Regions from separate parts of the Homo sapiens genome. Here region 2 is linked to region 1. The links come from fine-mapping of genetic effects on gene expression. A gene starts in region 1. The other region holds a variant in brackets. All regions are shown on one strand. Distances are from middle to middle.

Region 1 (16,052 bases):
AACCTTGAAACATAGAGCCTTCCAAAAAGGCAAGTCAGTCTTTTTTTTTTTTTTTTTTTTTTTTTGAGACAGGGTCTTGCTCTGTTGCCCAGGCTGGAATGCAGTGGTGTGATCATAGCTCACTGAAGCCTAGACCTCCCAGGCTCCAGCCATCTCCCGTCCTCAGCCTCCTGAGTAGCTGGAACCACTGGCAAGCACCACCATGCCTGGCTAGCTTTTAAATTTTTTGTAGAGATGGGGTTTTGCCATGTTTCCTCGAACTTCTGGGGTCAAGTGATCCTCCTGCCTTGGCCTCCAAAGTGCTGGGACTACAGACATGAGCCACTGCACCCAGCCAAGCCAAGGCAATTTTTTTTTTTTTAATTTGAGACAGAGTCTCGCTCTTGTCACCCAGGCTGTAATATGATGACACGTTCTCAGCTCACTGCAACCTCCACCTCCTGGGTTCAAGCAATTCTCCTGCCTCAGCCTCCCGAATAGCTAGGATTACAGGTGCCCGCCACCATGCCTGGCTAATTTTTGTATTTTTAATAGAGATAGGGTTTCACCATGTTGGCCAAGGTGGTCTTGAACTCCTGACCTCAGGTGATCTACCCGCCTTGGCTTCCCAAAGTGCTGGGATTACAGATATAAGCCACCACCAAGCCAAGTCAATCTTAAATTACATTAAAAACAGTGTCTACTATCACTGAGTAGTACACAAGTGATTCAGAGATTTGGGGTTTGGGTCCTGGGATTACAAAATAGAAGATACAATGAAATATCTCCCTCCCATTTATTCTCTAGCCATCCAGTTCCTACCCCAGAAGCAGCCTATTTTGTTACCATATTTCATTGACTTCTAAGATATACATGTTTTTTCACATTTTAACATCTCTGAAATCAGGATGTGTCTTACAATAGCTGTCAGCTAGGTGGCTCTCATCACATTGATACCATTGCCTGCACTTGAGCAAACTTGGCTATAGCTTTGGTATTGTCATCATTTCAAATGATTTATGTGCATTGTTGACGCTACATGCGCTGACTTTACTTGCTATTTAAAATATCTTCAAAAAGACGGTACTATCAGCATTTAAATGAAAGGTCACTGTGGATGCAGAAAGTTACAGAAACAACAGTGAGGTGCAAAATTGATATTAGTGAAGCGAATTTATGAATTGTTAGAGTAATGATTTCCATTCCATATTTTCTTGCAGAGCAACCATTGAGAGGTTTTCAGCAGCAGTACCTCTCTGACTGCAATGTGCACACAAATCCGCTGGGATCTGGATAAAACACAGATTTTGATTCACTAAGTCTGGCATGGGTCAGATTCCACATTTCTTTTTTTTTTTTTTTTTTTTTTTTTGAGATGGAGTCTTGCTCTGTCACCCAGGCTGGAGTGCAATGGTGCGATCTCTGCTAACTGCAACCTCAGCCTCCCGGGTTCAAGCGATTCTCCTGCCTCAGCTTCCCAAGTAGCTGGGACTACAGGCACATACCCCCACGCCTGGCTAATTTTTTGTACTTTTAGTAGAGACAGGGTTTCACCATGTTGGCCAGGCTGGTCTCGAACTCCTGACCTCATGATCTGCCCACCTCCGCCTCCCAAAGTGCTGGGATTACAGGTGTGAGCCACGGCGTCTGGCCTCAGATTCCACGTTTCTAACAAGCCCTCTGGTGATATTGATGCTGCTGATGCATGCTTGGTCCATTTGAGGACCCCAAAGTGGAAGATACCCAAAAGAGAAAAAGGAATGTTACCTACTCAAATTCATGCCAGACAATGCAATTTAAGACTGGGGAAATTGCCAGATCTCTCAGAATAGATGCAAGAAATTTCAAAGCCATGAAGGGCTGGTGTGATCAATCATGTGTCATGCAAGGCTGTCGTTATGGCATCATGTCATATAGTTAACTGGCAGTCTTTTTTTAAATAGACTTTATCTTTTAGAGCAGTTTTAGTTCACAGCAAAATTTAGAAGTACAGAGCGTTCTCATACACTCCCTGGCCCTACACATACACAGCCTCCCCCACTATCAACATTCTGCAACAGAGAGGTAAATTTGTTATAATCAATGAACCTACATTGACACATTATTATCACCCAAAGCCCATTTCTTTTAGTGCTGAATAATATTCCATTGTCTGGAAGTACCTATAGTTTATTTACACATTCACCTACTGAAGGACATCTTGCTTGCTTCCACATTTTGATGATTATAAATAAAGCTGATTATAAACATCCATGGGCAGATTTCTGTGTGGACACCAGTTTTTAATTCATTTGGGTCAATACCAAGCAGCACAATTGCTAGTTCATATGGTAAAAGTATATTTAGTTTTGTAAGAAACCGCCAAATTAGGCTGGGAGTGGTGACTCATGCCTACAATCTCAACACTTTGGAAGTCCAAGGTAGGAAGATCACGAGTCCAGGAGTCTGAGACCAGCCTGGGCAACATAGGAAGACTCTGTCTCTACAAAATTTTTGTTTTAGAAATTAGCCTGGTATGGTAGCACATGCCTGTAGTCCCAGCTATTCAGGAGGCTGAGGTGGGAGGATTGTTTGAGCCCAGGAGTTAGAGACTGCAGTTAGCCGTGATCTTGCCACTGCACTCCAGCCTGGGTGACAGGGCAAGCCCCTGTCTCAAAAAAAAAAAAAAAAAAAAAGAAAAGAAACCATCAAATTGTCTTCCAAAGAGCCTGAAGAACCTGTAGCATTTTGCGTTCCCATCAGCAATGAATGAGAGTTCATTCATTCACACTGATTCAATGAGATGACCCAAATCCAGAACACTGACAACACTAAATGCTGGTGAGGATGTGGAGCAACACACGTGTTTGGGTCCTCGCATTGTTGATCTAATTTGAAGTTCCCTGATGACACATGATGTGGAGCATCTTTTCACATGCTTACTTCATTTGTAAAATCTTTGGTGAGGTGTCTGTTCCAGTCGCTTGTCCATTTTTCAGCTGGGTTGTTCATTTTCTTATTGTTGAGCTTTAACAGTTCTTTGTATATTTTGGATAACAATCTTTTATCAGGTGTCTTTTCCAAATACTTTTTCCCAGTTGGTGGCTTGTCTTCTAATTCTCTTGACAGTGTTTTTCACAGAGCAGAAGTTTCTCTAATTTATTGAAGTCCAATTTATCAATGATTTCTTTCATGGTTAATGCCTGTGGTGTTGCATCAAAAAAGTCATGTCCATACGCAACATCATCCAGATTTCCTCCTTTGTTGTCTTCTAGAAGTTTTATAGTTTAGTGCTTTACATATAGGTCTGTGAGCCATTTCGACTTCATTTTTATGAAGGGTGCAAGGTCTGTGTCTGAATTCTTTTTTTTTTTATTTGCATATGGATGTCCAGTTGTTCCAGGACCATTTGTTGAAAATACTGTCTTTTTTTCCATTGTATTATCCTTGCTCCTTTATCAAACATCAGTTGAGTATAGCTATGTGGGTCTGTTTCTGGGCTCTCTATTCTGTTCTATTCATCTATTTGCCTATTCTTTTATCAATATCACAGTCTCTTGATTACCGTGGCTTTATAGTAAGCCTTGAAGTTGGGTAGTATCAGTCCTCCGACTTCTTCTTCTTCTTCAACATTGTGTTGGCTATTCTGAATCTTTTGCCTCTCCGTTTAGCAGTCTTTTTTCTTTCTTGTGCATGCAACAATGGTATATCTTATAATTGAGGGCATCTTAGATCTGATGAAATATGAGAGTTCCTCATGGATATTTCTAGAGATATCTTGTGCCTATAAAAGCATATACATAAAAGTATTATTTTTCTCTCAGCCGGGCACAGTGGCTCATGCATGTAATCCCAGCACTTTGGGAGGCCGAGGCAGGCGGATCACCTGAGGTCAGGAGTTCGAGACCAGCCTAACATGGTGAAACCCCATCTCTACTAAAAATACAAAAATTAGCCGGGCATAGTGGTGGGCACCTGTAATCCCAGCTACTCAGGAGGCTGAGGCAGGAGAATCACTTGAACTCGGGAGGCAGAGGTTGCACTGAGCCAAGATTGCGCCATTGCACTCCAACCTGGGCGACAGAGCGAGACTCCGTCTCAAAAAAAAAAGAGAGAAAAAGGATTATTTTTCTCTCAAGTTTATTTGTTTGGAAAACAATAATTTATTGCTCTTCCTTCCAAGTCTTTGTGAATTTACAGAAAAAAAACAAAAACAAAAACAAAAAAACAAAAAGATCAACGTTTACAGACTGTTCAGTTCAGACTAAGAATGCCAGAGATGAGTACCTGTACTGCCGTGGCTGCCGGCTACATGGCACCAATGTTCCCCAGCAGATATGCGCTAAAGTTTAAAACAAGCCCCCTCCAGATTTGTATTATCACCTTCAGAAAGGCTGTATTCCTCACACTGCATCTCACACGACATACTCAGGTCGTTAGTCACATCTGAAAATAAACTGGCCAATAAATGTGTTTCCTTCTGTGCATCTACTTTCCACGAGGCTTCATATTCAATCCACCACCTTTTTAGCCACATTTTCTCTTCTGCTGTTTGTGCTAGAAGTTGTTGCTGTTGGGCTTCTCTGTGTTTTGCCATAAATTGGAGCAAGTTCCAAGCACCAACTACCTTCCTCTTCTCATTTTCTGCTGCTTTTGCAAGTTGGTCCACAGGCTCAATTAAACCACCAACTATTTCTGAAATGGACTGATTTTGCCCACAAAATCCATGCAGTCTTCCTTGGGGTCCCTGGTCTGCTACGTAACCTCAGGGTCCCGCACCCAGGCTTGCTCAGCTCATCAAAACACAGTCCTGCTTCACCCAGGCTGTCCTGGCCTGTTTCCCTTCCAGCTTCCCCGCAGAAGAGTGATTCTGCTCTGCAGGGTGACAGTGGCGGCCAGAGGAGGTGTGTCATCGGAAAGAAAAAAGTCTGCTTGATTGTCACAGGGACCGTTCACTTAACACGTATTTCTCGAGTGTGTGAGCATCTAGTCAATGCTGCTAGATGCCAGAGAGGCAAAGATGACTGCACTTGGTCCTAGCCCCTTGGAGCACCTTGTCTGGCACTGGCCCCACTGCTGCAGCCCTGGCTGAGGTCAGCAGGCTGCTCTCCCTCAAGTCAGTGGCCACCAGAGCCTTACCTGCCAGCCCTGTCTGCCACCATGGCTGCTGGGCCTCCCTCAAGCTTATTTTTGATGTCTATATTGTGGGTCAAATTATAAGAGGCTTTAAAAGGATGAGTGTAAATGGAGGTGTCTGTCCCCTAATGGGTGCCCAGAGGAATTTTTCCATGTCAGGTAAGGATACCTTTTTTTCTGAGGCAGGGTCTCACTCTGTCTCCCAGGCTGGAGTGCAAAGGGCGATCACAGCTCACTGCAGCCTCGACCTCCCAGGCTCAAGCAATCCTCCCACCTTTGCTTCCTGAGTAGCTGGGACTACAGGTGCTTGCCATCACAGCCAGCTAATTTTTTTTTTTTTTTTTTGTATGTTTTTGTAGAGATGGGATTTCACCATGTTGCCCAGGCTGGTCTTAAACTCAGCTCAAGCTATCTGGCCCCCTCTGCCTCCCAAAGTGCTGGGATTACAGGCGTGAGCCACTGCGCCTGCCCACCCGCCCCCCACCCCCCGACTTCTTTCTTTTTAAACATTTTTGTAAACTTCTCTCTTTTTAAACATGCACACTCACTCCACCCAAGCCTCTGAAGACAGAATTCTTGACCCTATTGCACTTACGATCTAATAGAAGAGACACAGATATAATATATTATGGTTTGATATGTTCACTGCTAGAAGTTTATGCCAAGTGCTGCTAGAACATAAATAATGGAGCAGTTCATCTTTCCTGGGGATAGGAGCCAGAGCCACAGTGAGCGCTGTTGACTGGGGTCTTAAAATTAAGCTGCATATGCCAAGCAGGGAAAGCGGGAAAGAGCATTGCCAGCAAAGGGAGCAGTATGATCAAAATTCCAAAGCAGTGCGTGCCAAAGGGCGTGTCATGAGCTGGAAAAGGTATGGTAGCACTGGTCAAGATTGCAATTTCAGTGTTCTTTTTTTTTTTTTAATTGAGACAGAGTCTCACTCTGTCACCCAGGCTGGAGTGCAGTGGCGCGATCTCAGCTCGCTGCAACTTCCACCTCCTGGGTTCAAGCAGTTTTCCTGCCTCAGCCTCCGGAGTAGCTGGGATTACAGGCACCCGCCACCACACCCAGCTGATTTTTGTATTTTTAGTAGAGACGGGGTTTCACCGTGTTGGCCAGGCTGGTCTCGAACTCCTGACCTCAAGTGATCCTCTCATCTTGGCCTCCAAAAGTGCTGGGATTACAGGCATGAGTCATGGCACCCGGCCAGTTTCAGGGTTTGTTTGAAATGATCACTTAATGAGTAACTGTCTCCCCTACTAGACTGTAAACTCTATGAGGGCCGGGGCTGGGTCTGTGTTCAACCACACTATGCCCCAGTGCTGAGCATGTCATGGCATTCAAATAAATATCCGTTGGATGGATGAATGGATGGAAGAAAGGAGGGATGAAATTTTTTAATTAAGAGATGTGTGCCAATTTTGGCAAATTTGTCAAAAATTTTGAAGAAAGTTTTTCTCAGTGAATATGAATATATTCCACTTGTGAATCTATTCACAGACTATGGGCTTGCTGGAACCTAAGAGTCATCGAGTAGTTTAGACTTCTTATCAATAGATTTTTATTTATATTCATAAGAGTATATTCTTGAATATATTTACTAATGCATTCATTAACAGTATATATTCGTATTCATTGAAAACATTAAAGAAAAAATTCTTTAGAATGGACAAATCAGAATATTTCACTTTTTTTTTTTTTTTTTTTTTGAGGCAGAGTCTGGCTCTGTTGCCGGGCTGGAGTGCAGTGGCACGATCTTGGCTCACTACAACCTCTGCCTCCTGGATTCAAGCGATTCTCCTGCCTCAGCCTCCCAAGAAGCTGGGACTACAGGTGCGTGCCACCACACCCAGATAATTTTTGTATTTTTAGGAGAGGCGGGGTTTCACCATGTTGGTCAGGGTGGTCTTGATCTCTTGACCTTGTGATCCGCCCGCCTTGGCCTCCCAAAGTGTTGGGATTACAGGCGTGAGACACAGTGCCCAGCCTAGAATATTTCATAAATGTAGCAAATTGGCTTTAGGGAACTTTTTCTGCTTCCAGCATTCAGCAGCTATTTGAAGGGTTTTGGAAGCAAAGGAATGGAGGGAGACAGGACGGCACCCTGAGGGAGACGCAGGGCTGAACGGAGCTGTTCGGGGATAGCTGTGGCTTGAGTGGGTCTGTTGGCTGAAAGGAGGGATTCGTTGAAGAAGGAGCAATGGACGAGGTGAGAGAGAGGATACTGGATGGAACCAGGTTTCAGAGGAGGCTGATGGGAGAATGTGAGGAGCACCAAAGCGAGCCTTAGGAAAAAGAAGTTCAGACAGACAGACACTTCGGTAAACCACAGCTCCCAGTATTCACCACTGTGTGTAGTCTCCTCCCACACTGACTCTGGGCTTGGTCAGCTGACAAGCTTTGGCCAATAGGGCTCTAGCAAGAAGATGCCAGCAGAGGCTTGAAAAGTGCCTACCCCTGGCCTGGGATGCTTCCTCCTGGGATGCTCCCACTTGGAACCCAACTATTGTGCTGCAGAAGTTTAACTTAACTGTGTAAGGAGGCCAAGAGGAGGCCCTGGCTGCCAGCCAGCATCAACTTCCAGTGACGTGAGTGTGCCATTCTGGAACTGGATCCTGCAGCCTCGGTGGAGCAGCCTCAGCTGATGCCATGTGGAACAGAGATGAACTGCCGCTGCCGAGCTCTGCCCACGTTGCAGAATCATGAGCAAATGTGAGTTTTGTGGTTTTAAGCCACGAAGTTTAGAGGTGGTTTGCAATAGAATGGAGGGGACTGCTTTTCTTCTGAGTTTCGGATTGAATTCTGCTTTACTATAACTTATTTATTATATATTTGTAACAATTCTGTCTCCACCCATCAGTATTCACCCGCCTAAGGGCACAGAGGCACCAGGACTCTGGGAACCTTCCTTGATGTCTGGATCTACTGCAGTGACTCTTAGTGCAGCAGTTAAAAGCCAGACTGTCCTAGTGTGAATCCGGCCTTGGCTATTCATTGGCTGGAAGACCTGAGCCAAGCCTGTGCCTCTGTCCGGGCATCTGGGTAGATGTCCTAGGAGTCCACTAAGAAGAAAACTGAGGCCAGTGAGAGGCAGAGTTGAGGCAAGGCGCAACTCTATTCCCCTGCTGGGGAAAGCAGCTCTGCCCCTCGGTCTGCCCTGCTGACCAGGCATGACACACCACCTCATCAGCAGGGCCCACGGCACCCAGACCTGGCCTGGAGGGGCTGAGACAGCATTGCTAGGGGTCAGATGGTCACAGAATAAGCAACCTGAGACCTGGAAGGGCATAAGCATCTTCCCCTACCTGGAATCAGAGGCATAGCTGAGGTCAAACATCAGGGCAGGAGGGCCTGGAGGGGGTCGGAACCAGAGGTCACCCGGGTGTTTGGTTGGGAGGGGCGTCCATCTTTATCTTATCCATCACCATCACCATTATTGCTAAACATACAGTGAGCATTACTATGTGCCGAGCACTCATCTAAGCCCTTTATACTTCTAAACTTCTAAACTTATCCTCATAGCCACTTTTGGACACCAGTACATTATTGTCTCCACATCATAGCTGAGGACTCAAGGGACAGAGGGGTTTTGTAACCTGCTGAAGAACATGCAGCAGCTGCATAGCATAGCCAGGATTTGAACCCTGGCAGCCTGGATCCAGAGCCTGCTTAGGACCACTCAGTGACACTATTGAGGATTTCAGCCACCTTCTCCATAACACTATAGTCTTGCTTTTACCCTACTCCCTCAAACATCTTTTTACCAGGTCAACATTAGCTTAAAAACTGAGACACTTTTCTTATTGAAGCACATGCTCCAAGTACACCCTCTCTGCTCCCCAATTAGACCATCATTCCTGCCTTCCCTCCGTCTTATCTCTTCTAAATCCTTACACCGAGTGCCACCTCCTCCATGAAGATTTCCTGTCCTGGTTACTTCCCACCTGGAAATTTATACCTTCTCTCTTTCTTTTTTATTTCCTTTTCTTTCTTTCTTTCTTATTTATTTATTTATTTATTTATTTATTTATTTATTTATTTATTTTGGAGACTTTTTGTTTTTTCTTTTCTTTTTCGAGACAGAGTCTTGCTCTGTCGCCCAGACTGGAGTACAGTGGGGTGATCTTGGCTCACTCTAGCCTCTGCCTCCCGGGTTCAAGTGACTCTCATGCCTCAGCCTCCCAAGTAGCTGGGACTACAGGTGTGTGCCACAAAGCCTGGCTAATTTTTTTTTTCTTTTTTTCTTTTTTTGCATTTTTAGTAGAGGTAAGGTTTCACTGTGTTGGCCAGGCTGGCCTCAAGCTCCTGGCCTCAAGTGATCCACCCGCCTCAACTTCCCAAAGTGCTGGTATTACAGGCATAAGCCACGGCGCCCGGCCTATACCTTCTTTCTTAATTTGCCCAGCACCATTTGTTTCCTCCACTAGTACATATTCCACGGCTTGCCGTAATCTGCTTTGATGCCTATGCTGACCACTGGGATGAGCCCCAGGGGCCCTCCCTTCACCATTCTGACAAATGTTCTTCCCAAAACCATGGGAGTAGCTAGGAAAAGGTAACCAACAGGGCTGTGGAGAAGACAGACAGAAGTAAGACATACAGTCCCTCAGAAGGTGGCAGCCAACCCTGCCTGAGCTCTTCTAGCACCCTAGGGGGGCAAGTTTGCTTTCAGCAGAAGAGCTGGGGTTTGGGCTGGGCATGGTGGCTCATGCCTGTAGTCCCAGCTACTGAGGAGGCTGAGGTGGGAGGATTACTTTAGCCCAGGAATTCAAGGTTAGGGTGAGCTATCTTTGTGCCACTGCACTTCAGCCTGGGCAACAGATCAAGACCCTATCTCTTTTTTAAAGAAGAAGAAGAAGGAGGAGGAGGAGAAGGAGAAGGAGAAGGAGAGGAAGAAGGGGGAGGGGGAGGAAAAGAAAGAGGAAGGAGGAAGAGGAGGGAGGAGGGGAAGGGAAAGAGGAAGGAGGAGGAGAGGAAGAGGAAGAAAAGAAGAAGAGGAAGAAGGAGGAGGAGAGGAGGAGGAGACGAGGAGGCGGAAGGAGGAGGAGGAGGAGGAAGGAGAAGGAGGAGGAGGAGAGGGAGGAGGAGAAGGAGGAGGGGGAGGAGGAGGAGAGGAGGAGGAAGAGGAGGGAGAAGGAGGAGGGGGAGAAGGAGGAGGAGGAAGAGGAGAAGAAGAAGGAGGAGGAGGAGATCTAGAGTTGAAGGCAATCTACAAGGTATATCAGCTTGGGATAAATATTTTGATATATTCATCTATGAGTTTTGTTCCCCTCCTCTTTGTATTTTTCTCTTTTCTTTTTTTTTCCTTTTTTTAATTTTTTATTATTATTATACTTTAAGTTTTAGGGTACATGTGCACAATGTGCAGGTTAGTTACATATGTATACATGTGCCATGCTGGTGTGCTGCACCCACTAACTCGTCATCTAGCATTAGGTATATCTCCCAATGCTATCCCTCCCCACTTCCCCCAACCCACAACAGGCCCCAGAGTGTGATGTTCCCCTTCCTGTGTCCATGTGTTCTCATTGTTCAATTCCCACCTATGAGTGAGAATATGCAGAGTTTGGTTTTTTGTTCTTGCGATAGTTTACTGAGAGTGATGATTTCCAGTTTCATCCATGTCCCTACAAAGGACATGAACTCATCATTTTTTATAGTTGCATGGTATTCCATGGTGTATATGTGCCACATTTTCTTAATCCAGTCTATCATTGTTGGACATCTGGGTAGGTTCCAAGTCTTTGCTATTGTGAATAATGCCGCAATAAACATAGGTGTGCATGTGTCTTTATAGCAGCATGATTTATAGTCCTTTGGGTATATACCCAGTAATGGGATGGCTGGGTCAAATGGTATTTCTAGTTCTAGAGCCCTGAGGAATCGCCACACTGAATTCCACAATGGTTGAACTAGTTTACAGTCCCACCAACAGTGTAAAAGTGTTCCTATTTCTCCACATCCTCTCCAGCACCTGTTGTTTCCTGACTTTTTAATGATTGCCATTCTAACTGGTGTGAGATGGTATCTCATTGTGGTTTTGATTTGCATTTCTCTGATGGCCAGTGATGGTGAGCATTTTTTCATGTGTTTTTTGGCTGCATAAATGTCTTCTTTTGAGAAGTGTCTGTTCACGTCCTTCGCCCACTTTTTGATGGGGTTGTTTGTTTTTTTCTTGTAAATTTGTTTGAGTTCATTGTAGATTCTGGATATTAGCCCCTTGTCAGATGAGTAGGTTGTGAAAATTTCCTCCCATTTTGTAGGTTGCCTGTTCACTCTGATGGTAGTTTCTTTTGCTGTTCAGAAGCTCTTTAGTTTAATTAGATCCCATTTGTCAATTTTGGCTTTTGTTGCCATTGCTTTTGGTGTTTTAGACATGAAGTCCTTGCCCATGCCTATGTCCTGAATGGTAAAGCCTAGGTTTTCTTCTAGGGTTTTTATGGTTTTAGGTCTAACGTTTAAGTCTTTAATCCACCTTGAATTGATTTTTGTATAAGGTGTAAGGAAGGGATGCAGTTTCAGCTTTCTACATATGGCTAGCCCGTTTTCCCAGCACCATTTATTAAATAGGGAATCCTTTCCCCATTGCTTGTTTTTCTCAGGTTTGTCAAAGATCAGATAGTTGTAGATATGCGGCGTTATTTCTGAGGGCTCTGTTCTGTTCCATTGATCTATATCTCTGTTTTGGTACCAGTACCATGCTGTTTTGGTTACTGTAGCCTTGTAGTATAGTTTGAAGTCAGGTAGTGTGACGCCTCCAGCTTTGTTCTTTTGGCTTAGGATTGACTTGGCGATGCAGGCTCTTTTTTGGTTCCATATGAACTTTAGTTTTTTCCAATTCTGTGAAGAAAGTCATTGGTAGCTTGATGGGGATGGCATTGAATCTATAAATTACCTTGGGCAGTATGGCCATTTTCACAATATTGATTCTTCCTACTCATGAGCATGGAGTGTTCTTCCATTTGTTTGTATCCTCTTTTATTTCCTTGAGCAGTGGTTTGTAGTTCTCCTTGAAGAGGTCCTTCACATCCCTTGTAAGTTGTATTCCTAGGTATTTTATTCTCTTTGAAGCAATTGTGAATGGGAGTTCACTCATGATTTGGCTCTCTGTCTGTTGTTGGTGTATGAGAATGCTTGTGATTTTTGTACATTGATTTTGTATCCTGAGACTTTGCTGAAGTTGCTTATCAGCTTAAGGAGATTTTGGGCTGAGACAATGGGGTTTTCTAGATATACAATCATGTCACCTGCAAACAGCGACAATTTGACTTCCTCTTTTCCTAATTGAATACCCTTTATTTCCTTCTCCTGCCTGATTGCCCTGGCCAGAACTTCCAACACTATGTTGAATAGGAGTGGTGAGAGAGGGCATCCCTGTCTTGTGCCAGTTTTCAAAGGAAATGCTTCCAGTTTTTGCCCATTCAGTATGATATTGGCTGTGGGTTTGTCATAGATAGCTCTTATTATTTTGAAATACGTCCCATCAGTACCTAATTTATTGAGAGTTTTTAGCATGAAGATTTGTTGAATTTTGTCAAAGGCCTTTTCTGCATCTATTGAGATAATCATGTGGTTTTTGTCTTTGGTTCTGTTTATGTGCTGGATTACGTTTATTGATTTGCGTATATTGAACCAGCCTTGCATCCCAGGGATGAAGTCCACTTGATCATGGTGGATAAGCTTTTTGATGTGCTGCTGGATTTGGTTTGCCAGTATTTTACTGAGGATTTTTGCATCGATGTTCATCAAGGATATTGGTCTAAAATTCTCTTTTTTGGTTGTGTCTCTGCCCGGCTTTGGTATCAGGATGATGCTGGCCTCATAAAATGAGTTAGGGAGGATTCCCTCTTTTTCTATTGATTGGAATAGTTTCAGAAGGAATGGTACCAGTTCCTCCTTGTACCTCTGGTAGAATTTGGCTGTGAATCCATCTGGTCCTGGACTCTTTTTGGTTGGTAAGCTATTGATTATTGCCACAATTTCAGCTCCTGTTATTGGTCTATTCAGAGATTCAACTTCTTCCTGGTTTAGTCTTGGGAGAGTGTATGTGTCGAGGAATTTATCCATTTCTTCTAGATTTTCTAGTTTTATTTGCGTAGAGGTGTTTGTAGTATTCTCTGATGGTAGTTTGTAGTTCTGTGGGATCGGTGGTGATATCCCCTTTATCATTTTTTATTGCATCTATTTGATTCTTCTCTCTTTTTTTCTTATTAGTCTTGCTAGCGGTTTATCAATTTTGTTGATCCTTTCAAAAAACCAGCTCCTGGATTCATTAATTTTTGAAGGGTTTTTTGTGTCTCTATTTCCTTCAGTTCTGCTCTGATTTTAGTTATTTCTTGCCTTCTGCTAGCTTTTGAATGTGTTTGCTCTTGCTTTTCTAGTTCTTTTAATTGTGATGTTAGGGTTTCAATTTTGGATCTTTCCTGCTTTCTCTTGTGGGCATTTAGTGCTATAAATTTCCCTCTACACACTGCTTTGAATGCGTCCCAGAGATTCTGGTATGTTGTGTCTTTGTTCTCGTTGGTTTCAAAGAACATCTTTATTTCTGCCTTCATTTCGTTATGTACCCAGTAGTCATTCAAGAGCAGGTTGTTCAGTTTCCATGTAGTTGAGCGGTTTTAAGTGAGATTCTTAATCCTGAGTTCTAGTTTGATTGCACTGTGGTCTGAGAGATAGTTTGTTATAATTTCTGTTCTTTTACATTTGCTGAGGAGAGCTTTACTTCCAAGTATGTGGTCAATTTTGGAATAGGTGTGGTGTGGTGCTGAAAAAAATGTATATTCTGTTGATTTGGGGTGGAGAGTTCTGTAGATATCTATTAGGTCCAGTTGGTGCAGAGCTGAGTTCAATTCCTGGGTATCCTTGTTGACTTTCTGTCTCATTGATCTGTCTAATGTTGACAGTGGGGTGTTAAAGTCTCCCATTATTAATGTGTGGGAGTCTAAGTCTCCTTGTAGGTCACTCAGGACTTGCTTTATGAATCTGGGTGCTCCTGTATTGGGTGCATATATATTTAGGATAGTCAGCTCTTCTTGTTGAATTGATCCCTTTACCATTATGTAATGGCCTTCTTTGTCTCTTTTGATCTTTGTTGGTTTAAAGTCTGTTTTATCAGAGCCTAGGATTGCAACCCCTGCCTTTTTTTGTTTTCCATTTGCTTGATAGATCTTCCTCCATACTTTTATTTTGAGCCTATGTGTGTCTCTGCATGTGAGATGGGTTTCCTGAATACAGCACACTGATGGGTCTTGACTCTTTATCCAATTTGCCAGTCTGTGTCTTTTAATTGGAGCATTTAGTCCATTTACATTTAAAGTTAATATTGTTATGTGTGAATTTGATCCTGTCATTATGATGTTAGCTGGTTATTTTGCTCGATAGTTCATGCAGTTTCTTCCTAGTCTCGATGGTCTTTACATTTTGGGCATGATTTTGCAGCAGCTGGTACCGGTTGTTCCTTTCCATGTTTAGCGCTTCCTTCAGGAGCTCTTTTAGGGCAGGCCTGGTGGTGAGAAAATCTCTCAGCATTTGCTTGTCTGTAAAGTATTTTATTTCTCCTTCACTTATGAAGCTTAGTTTGGCTGGATATGAAATTCTGGGTTGAAAATTCTTTTCTTTAAGAATGTTGAATATTGGCCCCCACTCTCTTCTGGCTTGTAGAGTTTCTGCCGAGAGATCCGCTGTTAGTCTGATGGGCTTCCCTTTGAGGGTAACCCAACCTTTCTCTCTGGCTGCCCTTAACATTTTTCCTTCATTTCAACTTTGGTGAATCTGACAATTATGTGTCTTGGAGTTGCTCTTCTCGAGGAGTATCTTTGTGGCGTTCTCTGTATTTCCTGAATCTGAACGTTGGCCTGCCTTGCTAGATTGGGGAAGTTCTCCTGGATAATATCCTGCAGAGTGTTTTCCAATTTGGTTCCATTCTCCCCGTCACTTTCAGGTACACCAATCAGACGTAGATTTGGTTTTTTCACATAGTCGCATATTTCTTGGAGGCTTTGCTCATTTCTTTTTATTCTTTTTTCTCTAAACTTCCCTTCTCTCTTCATTTCATTCATTTCATCTTCCATCACTGATACCCTTTCTTCCAGTTGATCGCATCAGCTCCTGAGGCTTCTGCATTCTTCACGTAGTTCTCGAGCCTTGGTTTTCAGCTCCATCAGCTCCTTTAAGCACTTCTCTGTATTAGTTATTCTAGTTATACATTCTTCTAAATTTTTTTCAAAGTTTTCAACTTCCTTGCCATTGGTTTGAATGTCCTCCCGTAGCTCGGAGTAATTTGATCGTCTGAAGCCTCCTTCTCTCAGCTCGTCAAAGTCATTTGTTCCGTTGCTGGTGAGGAACTGCGTTCCTTTGGAGGAGGTGAGGCGCTCTGCTTTTTAGAGTTTCCATTTTTTCTGCTCTGTTTTTTCCCCATCTTTGTGGTTTTATCTACTTTTGGTCTTCGATGATGGTGATGTACAGATGGGTTTTTGGTGTGGATATCCTTTCTGTTTGTTAGTTTTCCTTCTAACAGACAGGACGCTCAGCTGCAGGTCTGTTGGAGTACCCGGCCGGCCGTGTGAGGTGTCAGTCTGCCCCTGCTGGGGGGTGCCTCCCAGTTAGGCTGCCCGGAGGTCAGGCATCAGGGACCCACTTGAGGAGGCAGTCTGCCCGTTCTCAGATCTCCAGCTGCATGCTGGGAGAACCACTGCTCTCTTCAAAGCTGTCAGACAGGGACATTTAAGTCTGTAGAGGTTACTGCTGTCTTTTTGTTTGTCTGTGCCCTGCCCCCAGAGGTGGAGCCTACAGAGGCAGGCAGGCCTCCTTGAGCTGTGGTGGGCTCCACCCTGTTCGAGCTTCCTGGCTGCTTTGTTTACCTAAGGAAGCCTGGGCAATGGCGGGCGCCCCTCCCCCAGCCTCGCTGCCGCCTTGCAGTTTGATCTCAGACTGCTGTGCTAGCAATCAGTGAGACTCCG
Region 2 (16,052 bases), 30 kb after region 1:
CGTTCTCAACTAATCTCTGCCTCTCTCTCTCTCTCTCACACATGCACACACACACAGACACACACACACACATCACATCACACATATAAACACAAAGAGAAAGGGGAGTATTCATACTATACATACAGTTTTTTTATTGTTGTAAAACATAAATAACAAAATTTACCATTTTAAGCATGTTTAGGTGTACAGTCCTATAGCACTAAGTACATTCACATTGTTATACATCTATCACCACGATTCACTTCCAGAACTTTTTCATCTTCTCCAACTGAAACTCTGTACCCATCAAGTCAGTGGTCCCCAACATTTTTGGCACCAGACTGGTTTCATGGAAGACAATTTTTCCACGGACAGGGTGGGTAGCGGGGATGTTTTCAGCATGAAACTGTTCCACCTCTGAAACCACCTTCTGCTGTGCAGCTGTGCAGCTGTGCAGCCTGGTTCTTAACAGGCCACGGACAGGTGCCAGTCCATGGCCCAGGGGTTGAGGACCCCTGCATTAAATAAGAACCCCCATTACCCCTCCCCCAAGCCCCTGACAACCACCATTCTGCTTTTTGTCCCTGCATAATTTGGTGACTTTAGGTATCTCATCTGAGTAGAATCATACAGTATTTGCCCTCTTGTGTCTGGCTTATTTAGCATAATGCCTTTAAGCTTCATCCATGTTATAGCATGTGTCAGAATTTCCTTTCTTTGTATGTATTTATATATAACATTGTGTCCTTTTTTTTTTTTTTTTTTTACACGGAGTCTCATTCTGTTGCCCAGGCTGGAGTGCAGTGGTGCGATCTCTGCTCACTGCAACCTCTGCCTCCCGGGTTTAAGCGATTCTCCTGCCTCAGCCTCCTGAGTAGCTGGGACTACAGACATGTGCTACCACGCCCGGCTAATTTTTTGTATTTTTTGTATTTTTAGTAGAGACGGGGTTTCACCGTGTTAGCCAGGATGGTCTCGATCTCCTGACCTTGTGATCCGCCCACCTCGGCCTCCCAAAGTGCTGGGATTACAGGAGTGAGCTATCGCGCCCGGCCAACATTGTGTTCTTATATTTATCTGTTGATGGACACTTGGTACAAATAGTTCTTTAGGCTGCTTTTTCCACTTAATATATTCTAGACATCATTTCATGTCAACAAAGTAAAATTAAATTATTATTTTTAATGACTATTTGGTATATTGCTCAACAGATATTTTATAAGTTATTTAACTAGATTGCTAACAATGAACACTTGATTATTTACAGTTTTTTTGCTTAATAGACTTTTCAGTGATGAACAATCTTTCCAATTTGTATTGAGAAACATATCACACAGGAGAGCATATAATGTATATGTTAAGCTTCAAGAATGCTAACAAAATGAACAGTCTGTATCCTACTCCCAGCTGAAGAAATAGAGTATTCTCAGAACCTCAGAAGCACCTGCAGGCCCTGCCCCATCTCATTGCCCTCTCATCCCCCGAGAGGGATCACTATTCTGATTTTTGTGTTAACCATTCCCATGCTTTTCTCTGTAATTTTATCATATGAGTATGTACATTCCTCCCCAAAAATATACAGCCTAAATGTAAGTCTACTGGATAAAAGAAAAAACATGGGTGCTATGGGCATCTTGGATCCTGGCCTTCCTTTCCAGACTCAATGCATCCAGTTATTTCCAGCTCAGAGAGCCCCTCCTCCATCATTGGTGTGATTCTCCACCTCCTCCTTCAAGGAAATCCTCCTTCCTACTAGGTTGTTATCAGTTTAGAATACCCCTCCACCTCTGCCTCTACTCCCATCCACCCGTTATGGCAAACTCATTTAGAATCATTGTCCATAGCACATTTTCCAGAAATGTTAATTAAGGGTGTAGAATAACACCATATTAGGAGGCTTCAACAGAATTGTCCAGGGCAGACTTGGGCATCCCCAGTCTCACCACTTGGGAGGTCCTGACCTCTGGTGTATGATATGCCTCCTCTTCCTCCTGAGGGCCTCTTGTTTCTTTTCCTGACAGTCTGTAGCTTACTCTTGGGTAAAATTAATGCCAAACACTCCCTTCCTAAGAACAAACAATGATCTTAGACATTACATTGTTTTAATGCACATGAAGGAGGCATTTCACTAAATGCAGCATAATTGACTAATATCCCTTGTATTTCAAATGAATATAGGCTTTTCCACAATTTTCCAGAGAAGTTTTAGCTTCCCCACTTTGCCTCACCCTCCTTATGTCTATACAGACTCTAGCTTTGGTTATCTTCAAGCATGTGCTAACTCTTTCCTTCCAGAAGCCCCCCATGATATAGAAATAACAGCACTCTGCTTGCTTCTGTCCTAATGCAGGATCCCAGGGAAAAGGAAGACTTCCTTGGTAATTGCAGAGAATGGAATCTGAGGCTAGTATACTGGTATTATCTACCATTTACATAATACCTGCTATGTTCCTGGCACTTTACATACATTATCTGAAGAGTACATTTTATTACTTTTGCACATAAGGAAACTCGGGTTCAATCATGCATCCAAAGACATTAACGAGTGAATGATTGATTCAGAGTTTGGACCAGGTGTGTGCATCACTAAAATGTTTGTGTTTGTGACCATTCCTCTATATCCTCTCTTTGGAAAGAGAAAGCTATGCAATATTTAGGATTTTTTCCCTGAGTTTCCTAGATCTGCTGTAACAAAGTACCACAAACCTGGGGGCTTAAAACAACGGAAATTTGTTCTCTCACAGTTCTGGAGGCTAGAAGTTCAAAATCATGGTTCCTTCTGAGGGGTATGAAGGAGGATCCCTTTCTTGCCTCTCTCCTCTCTTCAGGTAGTTGCTGGCAATCCTTAGTGGTATTGGTTTGTAGATGCATCATTCCAGCATCTGCACTTGGCCCTCTTCCCTGTGTATCTCTCCGTATTCAAATCTCCTCCTCCTTTCTCTTATAAAGATACCAGTCTTTGGCCTTAGGGCCTACCTTAATCCAGTATGACCTCATCTTAACTTGATTACATCTGCAAAAGACCCTATTTCCAAATAAGGTCACATTCACAGATACCAGGGGTTAGGACTTGAACATATATTTTGGGGGGACACAATTCAACCCAATACCTTGGGCATCCTTGTCACCAAGGCATTCTCCTATCATATTTCCTTCCCAAGGCCTGGAGGAACATGGCTGCCTGCTCACACAAGTAAATAGGAGGTGCTGGAGGTCTTAAGCCACAGCAGGAGGGCTGGGCAGAAACCTGTGCTCAGCAAGATACCTTTTCAGTGAAGGGTACCTGTTGCGGCAGGCCAAGAGAGCCACGGGCCAGCCAAGAGGCCAAGTCAAGCTGTAGTGAAACAGTTCCCTTTGGTGTCTGCAGCTGAGTGCCTGATTGCACAGTGGCATGGCACAGCTGTGTTAGTCGTCCTTTCTCCAGATGCCATGAAGTCTGGAAAATGTGTCTGGATACTTGTGAGGTCACCATACTTAGGGAGTTTGGACTCTGAATAAACAAGCGGCAGAAAGTCTTGAGATTCACAGCTCTTTCTGCTCCAGATTCTATACAGTTGAGGAAGGAGATGTGAATTGATGGTGGGGCCCCATGTTGGGGTGATCAGACCCAACACCAGGCCATGGGGGCTACGAAGTCCAGTGGAGTTAAAGGAATGAGACAAGACAAGAGTGCATAAAGTGGGATCAGGGGGCCAATGCTAGTATGGAGGCTGCTAAGGCCCGGAGCTCTGGAAGCCCACACTATTTATTGGTGATCAAACAAAGAAGCAGGTGGTGAGGATGTGGGGGTTGAAAGAAAGCAGTGTATCAAGCACATGATCTACAACTGTGACAGTTTAGCATTTTCTTTGAAGCATATGGAACATGTTCTGCTACTTGAGATAATGGGAAACATGTTCTTCTAGTTTAAGTTACAATCGATCTAATAGCCTGGGAGTGCTAGAAGCAAGAAGCCAGCAAGTCTAGACACATTCCAGAGGCCACAAGGAGTTTTAAGCCCTGAGCCCTGGATTCTGTCCAAGCCACAAGGGGTTTTATGCCCTGGGCTTAGATTGTGGTGTGGCAGGGCAGGTTTCCACCCTTTGGCACAGAGCTTGGTGTTCCAAAGGCCATGAGGGGTTTTAGACCCTGGACCCCAGGCATGTTCCAAGACTGTTTTACATTATGTCAGCCATGCAAGCCCTGCCTCAGCCTTTTTCCCAATACTCAGCTTTTCTCGAACACCCCAGATGTCTTCTGTGAGACCTGGCTGGAGTTCTACAGCACCTCCTGCCTGCTACTATCCTAACACTCTGTGGAGCAAACTCTATTCACTTGTTCTCCATCTTTTCCTTCTGGGCTCTGAGAGTCCAAACCTTGAGGTAGGTACCATGACACATTGGGGTCTCCACTCACAGCCTGATGCCTGTAGATGATCAGCCACTGTGTAATGAATGAACTCATTCTTCAATAAACCAGTGAATGATCACATGAAAGAAACGGTCTAGTGGGACTCTCTGGCCACAAATACTGAATCACCTTCCTCTTCTTTACCATAGAAGAAGGGAGAATTTCTTTCTCAAAGACCAAACCCTAGACTTCATAGTCTTTTTCTGTTTTTCTCCCCTACAGGACTTCTACCCCTCAGGGTCTCCCACAGAGCATTCTGTGGGCAACTAACCATCTAATGTTATTTTTATAGGGCCCAAGGGAGAAATTCTTATACATACACACATGTGCGCGTGCACACACACACACACACACACACACAAACTCTGTGTGTGTGCATGTATAAATGATTTCAGTTATGTACTGCTACATAACAAACCACCCCTAATGTAAGTAGCACAAAACAACCATTTTATTTTGCATACAGAGTCTTTGAGTCAGGAAATTAGACAGCAACTAGCAGGGGTGGCTAGCCTCTGCTCCCTGGTGTCTGAGACCTCAGCTGGAAAGACTTGAAAGCTGAGAATGACTCAACAATTGGGGGCTAGAGTCATCCGGAGGCGTCTTCACCCACATGTCTGGTGGTTTGGCTGGAACCTCAGCTGGGCTTTCAGCCCAAACACCTACACGTGGTCCCTCCATGTGTTCTCTCCACACGGGCTAGCTGGGCTTCATCAGACTAGCTGGTAACTGGGGTCCAAGGGAAGGTGTCCCGAGAAAGCAAAGCACAAGTGCATGGCATTTTTATGACCTGGCCTCAGAAGTCACAGAGCACCATATGGCATCATATGATATTGGTCAAGGTTACAGAGTTTTCCCAGGTTCAAGGCATGAGGAAGTGGGCAAGCTTCCTCTTTTTTTTTTTTTTTTTTTTTTTTTTTTTGTCAAGAGGGAGTCTCTCTCTGTTGCCCAGGCTGGAGTGCAGTGACTAGATCTTAGCTCACTGCAACCTCCACCTCCCGGGTTCAAGTGATTCTCCTGCCTCAGCCTCCTGAGTAGCTGGGACTACAGGCGCATGCCACCACACCCTGCTAATTTTTGTATTTTTAGTAGAAATGGGGTTTCACCATATTGGCCAGGCTGGTCTTGAACTCCTGACCTTGTGATCCACTCACCTCAGCCTCCCAAAGGCAAGCTTCTAGAACAGCACATGGACAGAAGATATTGGTATGTCACTTGGAAAACAGTCTGGCAAGCTCTTTTTTTCTTTTCTTTTCTTTTCTTTTTTTTTTTTTTTTTTAAAGAGATAGGATCTCTCTCTGTTGCCCAGGCTGGAGCACAGTGGCACAATCATAGCTCACTGCAGCCTCAAACTCCTGGGCTCACAAGCAATCCTCCTGTCTCAGTCTCTAGAGCAACTGGAACTATAGGCATGCACAACCACGCCTGGCTAATTAAGTAAATTTTTTTAAAGATGAGGTCTCACTATTTTTCCAAGGCTGGCCTCAAACTCCTGGCCTCAAATGATTCTCCCACTTCAGCCTTCCAAGTAACTGGGATTACAGGCATAATCTTTTTCTTTAAGTTGTAAAATTCACACACAAGACAGTAAATATAATTTAGTAGTTTAGAACTCTCCAATTGTGTTTCTCTGACCCTCGATCGAAAGTAACCACCCTTGTGAGTTTTGTGTTACTCATGTTCTTGCTTTCTTTATAATTTTGCCACTCCAGGTTTTTTCCTAAATAATATATTGTTTAGTTTTGCCTGCTTGCAAACTTTGTAAAAATGGAATCACACAGAAGCATTCTCCTGTCATCTTGTTCATTTACTCTTTTTTTTTTTTTTTTTTTTTTTGAGATGGAATCTTGCTCTGTCACCCAGGCTGGAGTGCAGTGGCATGATCTCAGCTTACTGCAACCTCTGCCTCCCAGGTTCAAGTGATTCTCCTGCCTCAGCCTCCCAAGTAGCTGGGATTACAGGTGCGTACCACCATGCATGGCTAATTTTTGTATTTTTAGTAGAGACAGGGTTTCACCATGTTGGCCAGGTTAGTCTTGAACTCCTGGCCTCAAGTGATCCACCTGCCTCGACCTCCCAAAGTGCTGGGATTATAGGCATGAGCCACCATGCCCTGCTATTTACTCTTGTATCATGAAGAAAGGGTAGGCTTGGTTGTGTTGTGGTAACAAACATCACCAAAATCTCAGTGGCTTATAACTCCAGTTATTTCTCACTTATACTATACAGATGTTGTGGATTGGCTGTAACTCTGCTCTGGGATCCAGGCTGAAGGAGCAGGCTCTATCTGGAACATTACTAGTCTCCAGGCAGAAGAAAAAGAGACAATGGTGAGCCATGTGATTTTTCTTCAAACTCCTCCTCAGAAGTGACATGTGTTCATTCTGCTCCCATTCTATTGGCCAAAGCAAGTCACATGGCTAAGCCTAAGTTCAGTGGGTTACAAATATAATCCCTATGTAGAAAGCGACCTGGAAGGAACACTCCTAGAGGGGCAACAGATATTTTGAAATAGTATCACAAGCTACCGTAGTATCCCTCCTTGTCACAATTATTTGCATCCCTAATACAAGCATCAGACATTAAGTCCAAGATCTCATGGTAGTTCCTACATTGGGTCTGGATGTGGTTTCCTCTTGGTCTGGAGATGCGGAACTAAGAAGTCTAGTTATCAGCCCTCCACATACCCCATGGGCCAAAGAAGAACAGGGATGGGGTAATCTCAATAAACACTCAGCAGATCTGGGGGAAGGCCTGAGGTTCTGCATTTCTAACATTATTTAGAAAGGAAAGAATGAGAGACATGATATTGGTCAAGGTTACACAGTGTTTACAGGTTCAAGGCATGAGGGAGTGGGCAAGCCTCTAGAATAGCATGTGGACAGCAGATATGGGTAATCATTGATCTATGGACATCTTGAAATTCCACTGGGCTGACATCATAAGGGGCCCCCTATCCTGGGGATAGGGAATATTTCTAGATTAGGTCTTAGTCCTGCCCCTGGAGGAAGGGGGTTCCTCATGCCATTCTCTTTCATGGCCTTTGGCTCTGCCGTCCGGAAGGGCCTTCCTTTTCTATTTTCCTCCTAATGAAGGCGTGTGCCTTCCTGAAGTGTGCCCCCCGCTTGCTCTCTGTGGTAGACTGCATTATTAAATACTCATTGCTCCTCTCCATGGGTCTGTTTTGCTGAACCCTAATTAACCTCAGTAGGGAAGGCACCAGGTTCAAGAGGTCAAAGAAGAGACCCAAAGGTAGCAAATAAGACATGGGGTTTTGGCCGGGCACGGTGGCTCACACCTGTGATCCCAGCACTTTGGGAGGCCAAGGCGAGTGGATCACCTGAGGTCAGGAGTTCAAGACCAGCCTGGCCAACATGGTGAAACCCCATCTCTACTAAAAATATAAAAAATTAGCTGGGCATGGTGTCAAGCGCCTATAATCCCAGCTACTTGGGAGGCTGAGGCAGGAGAACCGCTTGAACCCGGGAGGTGGAGGTTGCAGTGAGCCAAGATTGTGCCTTTGCATTCCAGCCTGGGCAACAAGAGCAAAACCCCGTCTCAAAAGAAAAAAAAAGACATAGGGTTTTATTTGGGGCTTACATACAGGGGAGAGTCTCCAGCAGTGGCAGACTGGACAGGAAAAACGCAACCACTTGCAAACAGCATGCAGTTTATACAGTATTTTCACTTAAAACCCTCCCCTTAACAACCTTCACCTGGTAACCTGCATTTAACCTAAAACAAATGGCCTCCATCCCTTATACGGCCCACATTCCACCAGACAGGAAGGGAGTGGGGTGGAGCTCACATGTTCCTCATAGACAGGAAGGAATCTCTGGGTTGGCCACTCCCAGATTCCCTAGCTCAGAGCACACACTCAGGTGCGTCTGCCATACAGGGTCATTCTAAGGGTATGCTTAAGTTATTGCTATTGGGTATGTTTATCCTACAGGGTCCCTCAATACTGGACGATTATAATGCTCACTCCCTGATGACAAACTTGGTCATATGACTTTTTTGGCCAATGGAAGTGGTGCATGCCACTTTCGGGTAGAAGCTTTATTGTAGGGTGACCAACCTCAGTTACCTGAAGACGAAGACTATTCTGGTTTTAACACTAAAGTGTTGTGTCCCAGGAAACCCCCAGTCCTGGGCAAACTGGGATAGCTGGTCACCCAAGCT[G/T]TAAGAGTCATGTCACACTTTTATTTTTTTCCTTTTTGAGGAGAACAAAAATGTCTCCGTTAGAAACCTCCTATGAGCCTTGGTCACAGAATGAGGAGGAAGATAGCTGACCTCGATGGATATGTAATGCAAATAAGAAACAAATGTTTGGGCCAGGTGCAGTGGCTCATGCCTGTAATCCCAGAACTCTGGGAGACCGAGGCAGGTGCATCACTTGAGGTCAGGATTTTGAGACCAGCCTGACCAACATGGCGAAACCCTGTCTCTACTAAAAATACAAAAATTAGCCAGGCATGGTGGTGGGGGCCTGTAGTCCCAGCTACTCGGGAGTCTGAGGCACAAGAATCACTTGAACCCAGGAGGCAGAAGTTGCAGTTAGCTGAGATTGTGCCACTGCTCTCCAGCCTGGGTGACAGAGCAAGACTCGGTCTCAAAAGAGGAAAGGAGGGGAAGGAGAAGGGGAAGGGGAAGGATGAGCAGGAGGGGGAGGGGAAGGGGAAGGATGAGCAGGAGGGGGAGAGGAAGGGGAAGGGGAGGGAAGAAAAGGAGAGGGGAGGGGAGGGAAGGGAAAGTTAAGTTTGGGGTTTATTTAGCCACTGAGTTGAGAAGGTCATTTGTTACTGCAGGATAACTTAGCCTAAGCTGACTGAGGCAGCTCTACATGATATCTTTGGTATTCACCCATTCATCCATTTCTTATTGATGTCTGACAAGTTCTGCCTCTTCTTGCCCTCAATATGGTTATGCCAAGCTTCTCCTTGGAACTTCAGTACTTTTGTGAGTAGAGCTGCCAAGTAAAATACAAAATGCTCAGCTAAATTTGAAATTCAGATAAACAATACATAATTTTAGAAACTTTTCCTAAATTTAAATTGATCATATTAATAAAATTTAATTTTTAACTAGTAAGTTTGCTAAACCTGTTTTCACTACTTAAAATAATTTTATAAGTATAGCCCACACAATATTTGAGACATACTTATACTAAAAAAGTATTTGCTCTTTATCTGAAATTCAAATTTAACTAGGCATTCTGTATTTTCATTTGCTAAATCTAGCAAGCCTAGTTGTGAGGAAAGCACTTTTTGAGGGGCCTGGGACAAAGAATATACTCAGAAAATTCCCACTTCTACAGAGAGCAGCATTGTGGAGCAATGCTAAACTTAATCTATCATCAGATTTATGGGGAGCTTTAAAAAAGGGACCTAGGTGTGAGCTCAGACCTGATTAGCTAGAAACTTGTGTGGAATATCTGGGGAATCTGTAGTTTTTGAGACAGTCTTGCTCTGTTGCCCAGGCTGGAGTGCAGTGGTACGATCTTGGCTCACTGCAACTTCCGCCTCCTAGGTTCAAGCGATTCTCCTGCCTCAGCCTCCCAAGTAGCTAGGATTACAGGTGCCCACGACCATGCCTGGTAATTTTTTTGTATTTTTAGTAGAGACAGAATGTCACAATGTTGGCCAGGCTGGTCTCGAACTCCTGACCTCAGGTGATCCACCCTCCTCGGCCTCCCAAAGTGCTGGGATTACAGGGAATCTGTAGTTTTCTTTTAAAAAGTGTGTTAATTCTGATCATTGGCCAGGTTTGGAAACTAGTGGCCTCACGCACTACTTCTCAAACTCTAACCATGCGAAGCATCTCGGGATCTTGCCAAACACAAATTCTGATTCAGCAGGTCTTGGGGGACCTGAGGTTCTGCATTTCTAATATCATGATATCGATCCTACACATCTGTGGATCACACTGAGTAGCAAGATTTCAGAGCGGTGGGTCTCAAACTTGAACCACCTGGAGGGCTTATTAAACCGCATTGCTGGCCCCACCCCAGCGTTTTTTACTTAGTAGATTAGAACTACTCTTTTTGTTAGAAAAGCTCCCAGGTGTTTCCGATGCTGCTGCTGTGGGACCCACACTCAGAATCACAGTGCTAGGAGAAAGAGAAAGGGCTTTGGGATTGGCGGACCTGAATTAAATTCCATCCCAGCAAGCGGGTCACCTCTGACAGATTTCTTACATTGGTTCTCCACTCTGTACATAAGAGTCACCTGGGCCGGGCATGGTGGCTCACGCCTGTAATCCCAGCACTTTGGGAGGCCGAGGTAGGTGGATCACCTAAGGTCAAGAGTTCAAGACCAGCCTGACCAACATGGGGAAACCCAGTCTCTACTAAAAATACACAAAAATTATCAGGGCGTGATGGCGTGCTCCTGTAATCCCAGCTACTCCGGAGGCTGAGGCAGAAGAATGGCTTGAACCCGGGCGGTGGAGGTTGCAGTGAGCAGAGATCATGACACTGCATCCAGCCTGGGGGGCAAGAGCGAAACTCCATCTGAAAAAAAAAAAAAGAGTCACCTGAAGATCTTAAACAATTCTGATGCCAGTGTTCTTTCCCAGATCAAATTAAATCAGGAAAGCTGGGAGTGAGACCCAGATGCACTGTTTTAACAAATTCCTCAGGGGATTCTAATGTGTCACCAGGTGGAAAACCACTGAAACACTGAGCCATTCTCCTTATCTGAAAATGAAGACTGAGGATTAAGTGTAATGGAAATGAAAGAGTCTGGCATAAGGCAGGCACCCGAAGTGGCTGCTATGACTCCTCCACTTTCTAGCCTTCCCTTCCATCTTAGAGGAAGAGCTGCCCCCAGGCCTGTATGAGGTTCACCTGTCTCCAACCCCTCCCCAACAAAGAAAAGAACCTAGCTTGCTTTGTCATTTTCTTCTGGAACATTGCCTCTCACCAGCGTCTCAAGTCTACTTCCACTAGCTCTTCCCTATCTGTCTTTTAAAATATGCTGAACTCCGCCATCACTCAATCTTGCTGTCATCCTGTTTCCTGCCTCATATCACTGATAACATTTCTCAAGCAAGTGGCCTACAGCGGTACCAATTCCTGGCTTCTCCTTAACCCTCAGGAGAAAAAGCCTCATTCCCTTCACCCCCAACCCTAAACTTTAGTACAGAGACACCCAAAGTTTATCAAAAGTGTTTGAATGGCCAAACCCAGAGGCCTTTTCTCGGTAATTCTTCTCTTTCAATTCAATTGAACAAGCGTGTTTTAGTGCCTACTATCACTTGGGTACAAAGAGGAATAAGTCACCCTCCTTGGCCTCAAGGGGTAGGGCTTGGGAGCAGCTATCATGTAAGTAAGGCAATACCTGAGATAGGAACTGTGAGGTAAAGTGTGAATGATGTGGGTTCTGGCCCCCAGCACTCAGCCTTATCATAGGTCTTTGCATCTACATCTATTAGGAATGGATGATTGAATGGATGAATGAACTCCACAGGAAGATGAGGAAAGCCTTTATGGATGGAGTGAGCTTGCAGCAGAGTCTCAAAGGGTGAGTAGAGTTTTCCAGGTAGGGAAGTGTGTGGGTGAGTAGTCCAGATCGAGTCAAAGGTATGGGAGCAAGGAACGGCCTGGTGCATTCCAGAAGTGTTGATAATGTCACTGGCTGACTCGGAGGGTGTGAAGGGGAGGAGAAGGAGGGAAGGCTAGAGAGGGAAGGTAGAAAGGAAGTGGAGGCGAAAAAAGATGCTGAAGGGCCTCCTGTACCTCCAGGAAGAGTTTGAATGTTATCATTTGGGCAATGGGAAGCTATTCCTGGGTCTTCACAAGGGAATCAGTTGGTGAGAACTGCTGTTTAGAAAGACAGCCCTGGCAGCAACTCAAGCGCTGGGAGAGGACAGAACCACCAGGGAAGAGGGTATGGGGAAGAAGAGCAGCAGGCTGAGGACAGGCCCAGGACTGAAGAATCAGGCACAGGAAGAAGAGTCCATGGGGCAGGCTGTGAAATGGACAAAGGAAAACCAGAGGTGCTTCCCAAGCAGGGGGCCTGGCCACCAGAGTCCCAAGCTACCAAGATGTCAAGTAAAGAAGAACTGAAAGCCAACTGCTGGATGCAGCAGTGAGTGGGGGTCACAGTGGCCTTTGCCAGAACTGTTCCAGTGGAGGAGTAGAGGAAGAGAGAAAACCACAGGAGCAGGCATCGCAAGCTCATGCTCCACCCACACGTCCCCTTTCTCCTTTAGTCCTGTGACCCATGTGCTTGCTCTCTTTCTCTCTCAAAGGAGATCCAAATTTAAAAATATGGAGCCAAGGGAATCAGTTCCTTTGCGAACACACTGAACGTTAGTTTTCTTCTTCTCTTTTGCAAAAACTTCTTATTTCACAAAATACTCAAACAAATAGACAAAGTACAGTGAAGTCCAGGTAGATATCATCCACCTTCAGCAATGATCAATCCATGGCCAATCTTTCATCTCAACACTCGTATCCTCATTCTTGTGGAGCAAATGCCAGACATTCTTTCATCCATCAGTATGTCAATATGTATCTCTGAAATAGAAGGACTTTTTATAAAACATAATCATAATATAATTAATATTCATTCCCCAATTGTTTTGTTATTGTCTTTTACAGTTTAATTTTTGTTTTGTTTTGTTTCGTTTCTTTTTGAGACAGGATCTTGCTCTGTTACCCAGGCTGGAGTGCAGTGGTGCGATCATGACCCATTGCAGCCTCTACCTCCTGGGCTCAGGTGATCTTCCCACCTCAGCCTCCCAAGTAGCTGGGACTACAGGTGCATGCCACCATGTCCAGCTACTTTTTTGTATTTTTGTAGAGATGAGGTCTCACCATGTTGCCCAGGCCAGTCTCAAACTCCTGGGCTCAAGTGATCCACTTGCCCCAGCCTTCCAAAGTGCTAGGATTACAGGCATGATCCATAATACCCAGCTACGGTTTGTTTTCATTTGGATGCTAATAAGACCCATACATTCCATTTGGTTGATCTATCTCTTCAATTTCTTTTAAATTTATAATTTTATAAGGTCCCCTTCCACATTTTTCTTTGTGGAAGAGGAGAAAAGACCCTTGTTCTCTGGATCACTCTGTGGTTAAGGGGGTAGGTCCTCAAATCAGATGCCCTGGTTCTATTTTGCTTTCTTGTTTTTTAGTACTTTTTGTTTGTTACCTACACACAGAAAAGTACATGAATCATAAGTGAGCAGCTTGATGAATTTTCATAAGTGAACACACCTGTGTAACCACCACCCAGCTCAGGAACAGGGCATCACTGGCACCCAAGAACCCCCTCTCAGGCCCTTTCCCAGTCTCTACCACCTCACAAAGGTCAGGTGACTTTTTCACACCACAGCCATGTGTTACCTCTTTTTGAACTTTATATAAATAAAATCATAGCATACATTTCTTGGATGACTGGCTTCTTTCACTCACCTTTATGCTGGTGGCATGCTTATCGTAATGATTTGTTCATTCCCAATGCTGCATAGTATTCCATTGAATATGAATGTTCTACAATCTGTTTATCCATTCTAGTGTTGATGGACATTTGGACAGTTTACAATCTTAAGCTATTACGAATGGTGCTATTGTGAATGTTATTGTCCGTGTGTTTCTTTGGGTACATACTTAAGAATGAGAATTATGCATGCTCATGTTGCCAAGGTTTTAATTTTGGGTTTACTTAATATCACTTTTGTGACCTCAAGCACATTATTTTACCTCTCTGGCCTCAGTTTCTTAATCTGTAAAACAGGCATAATCATATTCACCCTGTGGAGTTATTGGGAGGATTAAATATTTAAAAAAATCTAAAACTCTTAGAATCGTGCTTGTCTCTTAGTAAGGGTTTTATAAATGTTAGCTGTCAACCCTTCCTCCCTTTGTGGTGGTAACTTCTCAAGCTCCTTCACTGTTTTTCTCCTCCTGCCAAGTTTCATTCTCCCAAGTTCAAGTTAACCTGGTCTGCTTTTCTTTCTCTCTGAAACTTGTCTATGCCTATGACTTCCATTATCTTGTACTGTGGACAGCTTTTGCAACGTGTTACCTAGAAACTATGACTCCAAATCCCCTTGTCTACAAAACTCAGCCTCTCCCCTGCTTACCAATGCTCCCTTTCTAGTAATGATGTCATATTTTCCCTTTCCCTTGAATATATGTGTCACCAAAATCTCAACAGATCTAAAGTAAATTTACCTTTCTCTCCCATATTAGAACCACCTTGGGATCATCTCTGACCCTTCTCTCTTTCTTGCACCCCATATTTAATCTGTGGGGAAGTCCTGAAGAATCTATGCTCACATCACTGTTATTCTTTTCTTTTTACTTCCACTGTCTAGTTCAGGCCCTTAACAACTTACATTGAAACTAATGCAATAACCTGTTATCTCTTCTACCTGGCTCCAACCTCTCCTATTTCTAATTTTCTCTGAACATTGCCTCCAGATTAATTGGACTAAAATATGGCTTCATAATAAATCATCATGATAGGGCATATAACTGTGAAAAGAAAATAAAGCCTTGGGACCCCAAACTCACTATGTCAAAGGGAAAAATTAAGCTTGGAAACTGAGTCACACAAAAACTGCCTTCCTTTTGCTCCTAAACAGATCGTTGCATTTGGATATTTGGACTGTTTACAACCTTAAGCTATTACAAATGGCGCTATTATGAACGTTATTGTCCATGTTTTTCTCTGGGTACTTAGTTAGGAATGAGTATGTGATAACGGAAGGCCATCTATCTCCCCAGGTGGCCTTCCTCACAATTGCTTACAAGGAAATTTTTTGTGGGTCCCAAATCTTTCAGAATACATATCCTCCTGATGAACTACCCCTAAAACACAGTTCTGTTGAATCTCACCCTGACAATGTAGGCTTTTTTTTTTTCTTTTTTTTTTTCTTGTGAGACAGAGTCTTGTCATCCAGGCTGGAGTGCAGTGGCACGATCTTGGCTCACTACAACCTCTGCCTCCCAGATTCAAGCAATTCTCCTGTCTCAGCCTCCTGAATAACTGGGACTCCAGGTGCCTGCCACCAAGCCTGGCTAATTTTTTGTACTTTTAATAGACATGGGCATTTCACCATGTTGCCCAGGCTCATCTCGAACTCCTGACCTCAAGTGATCCACCTGCCTCAGCCTCCCAAAGTGCTGGGATTACAGGCATGAGTCACTGTGCCTGGCCAACTATGTAGATTAACATCTTATCTTCACAGGTATGAGACAAAGACCAGACTAGAAATAATTCCTCTGCCCACCCAAGACAAATGCATATTAGATTTCTTCCTCTACTCTGTGTTTACATATTTTATGTAAAATGTAGATTTACCAAGCAAGAAAACTAACATAATTGACTGTTCCTCTACCCGCCCCTTTCACATGTAAAATGTAGATTCAGCGAGTGCTAATCAAAGCCGCATAGGAAAGTAATCTCCTGTCTCATTGCTTACCCTTCCTTCTTTTTTTCCTTTCCTCTCTAAAGTCCTGAAAAACCCTTTTTGGAAAAAGCACAGGCCACAGATCCTATGGTAACTTGTGTTTCTTTCTCCCAGAAGAACTATGGTTACTTGTGTTTCTTTCTCCCAGAAGAAGAAATAAAACAAACTTCTACATGGCAAAATAAACCTCTACATGGCAAAATAAACCTCTACATGGCAAAATAAACCTCTACATGGATAGAGATCTGTCTCAGACA

Direction of the effects. Alleles are on the strand shown, and positions count from the first base shown. SD is a standard deviation of normalised expression in the study named.
With allele G in place of T in region 2, the expression in aorta of the gene that starts at base 7,504 in region 1 is higher (small effect, 0.38 SD a copy in GTEx).

Evidence for each region.
Region 2: its variant is fine-mapped to the expression of CARMAL in aorta (GTEx, PIP above 0.99).

Annotation. Positions count from the first base shown.
Region 1 is chr15:89,033,495-89,049,546 of GRCh38, forward strand. CARMAL (coronary artery disease region linked MFGE8 regulatory lncRNA) reads left to right here and starts at 7,504. Exons shown (of 4, transcript NR_183882.1): 1 at 7,504-7,806. It also overlaps a transcript of ABHD2 not described here. RefSeq lists an enhancer at 15,486-16,037.
Region 2 is chr15:89,063,491-89,079,542 of GRCh38, forward strand. It overlaps CARMAL (coronary artery disease region linked MFGE8 regulatory lncRNA), which reads left to right. Exons shown (of 4, transcript NR_183882.1): 2 at 6,601-6,701; 3 at 11,806-11,894. It also overlaps a transcript of ABHD2 not described here. Among named protein-coding and RNA genes, the nearest start is that of ABHD2, 17 kb to the right of the region's middle. RefSeq lists enhancers at 4,743-4,792, 4,843-4,892. The variant G/T (reference allele first, on the strand shown) is at 8,554.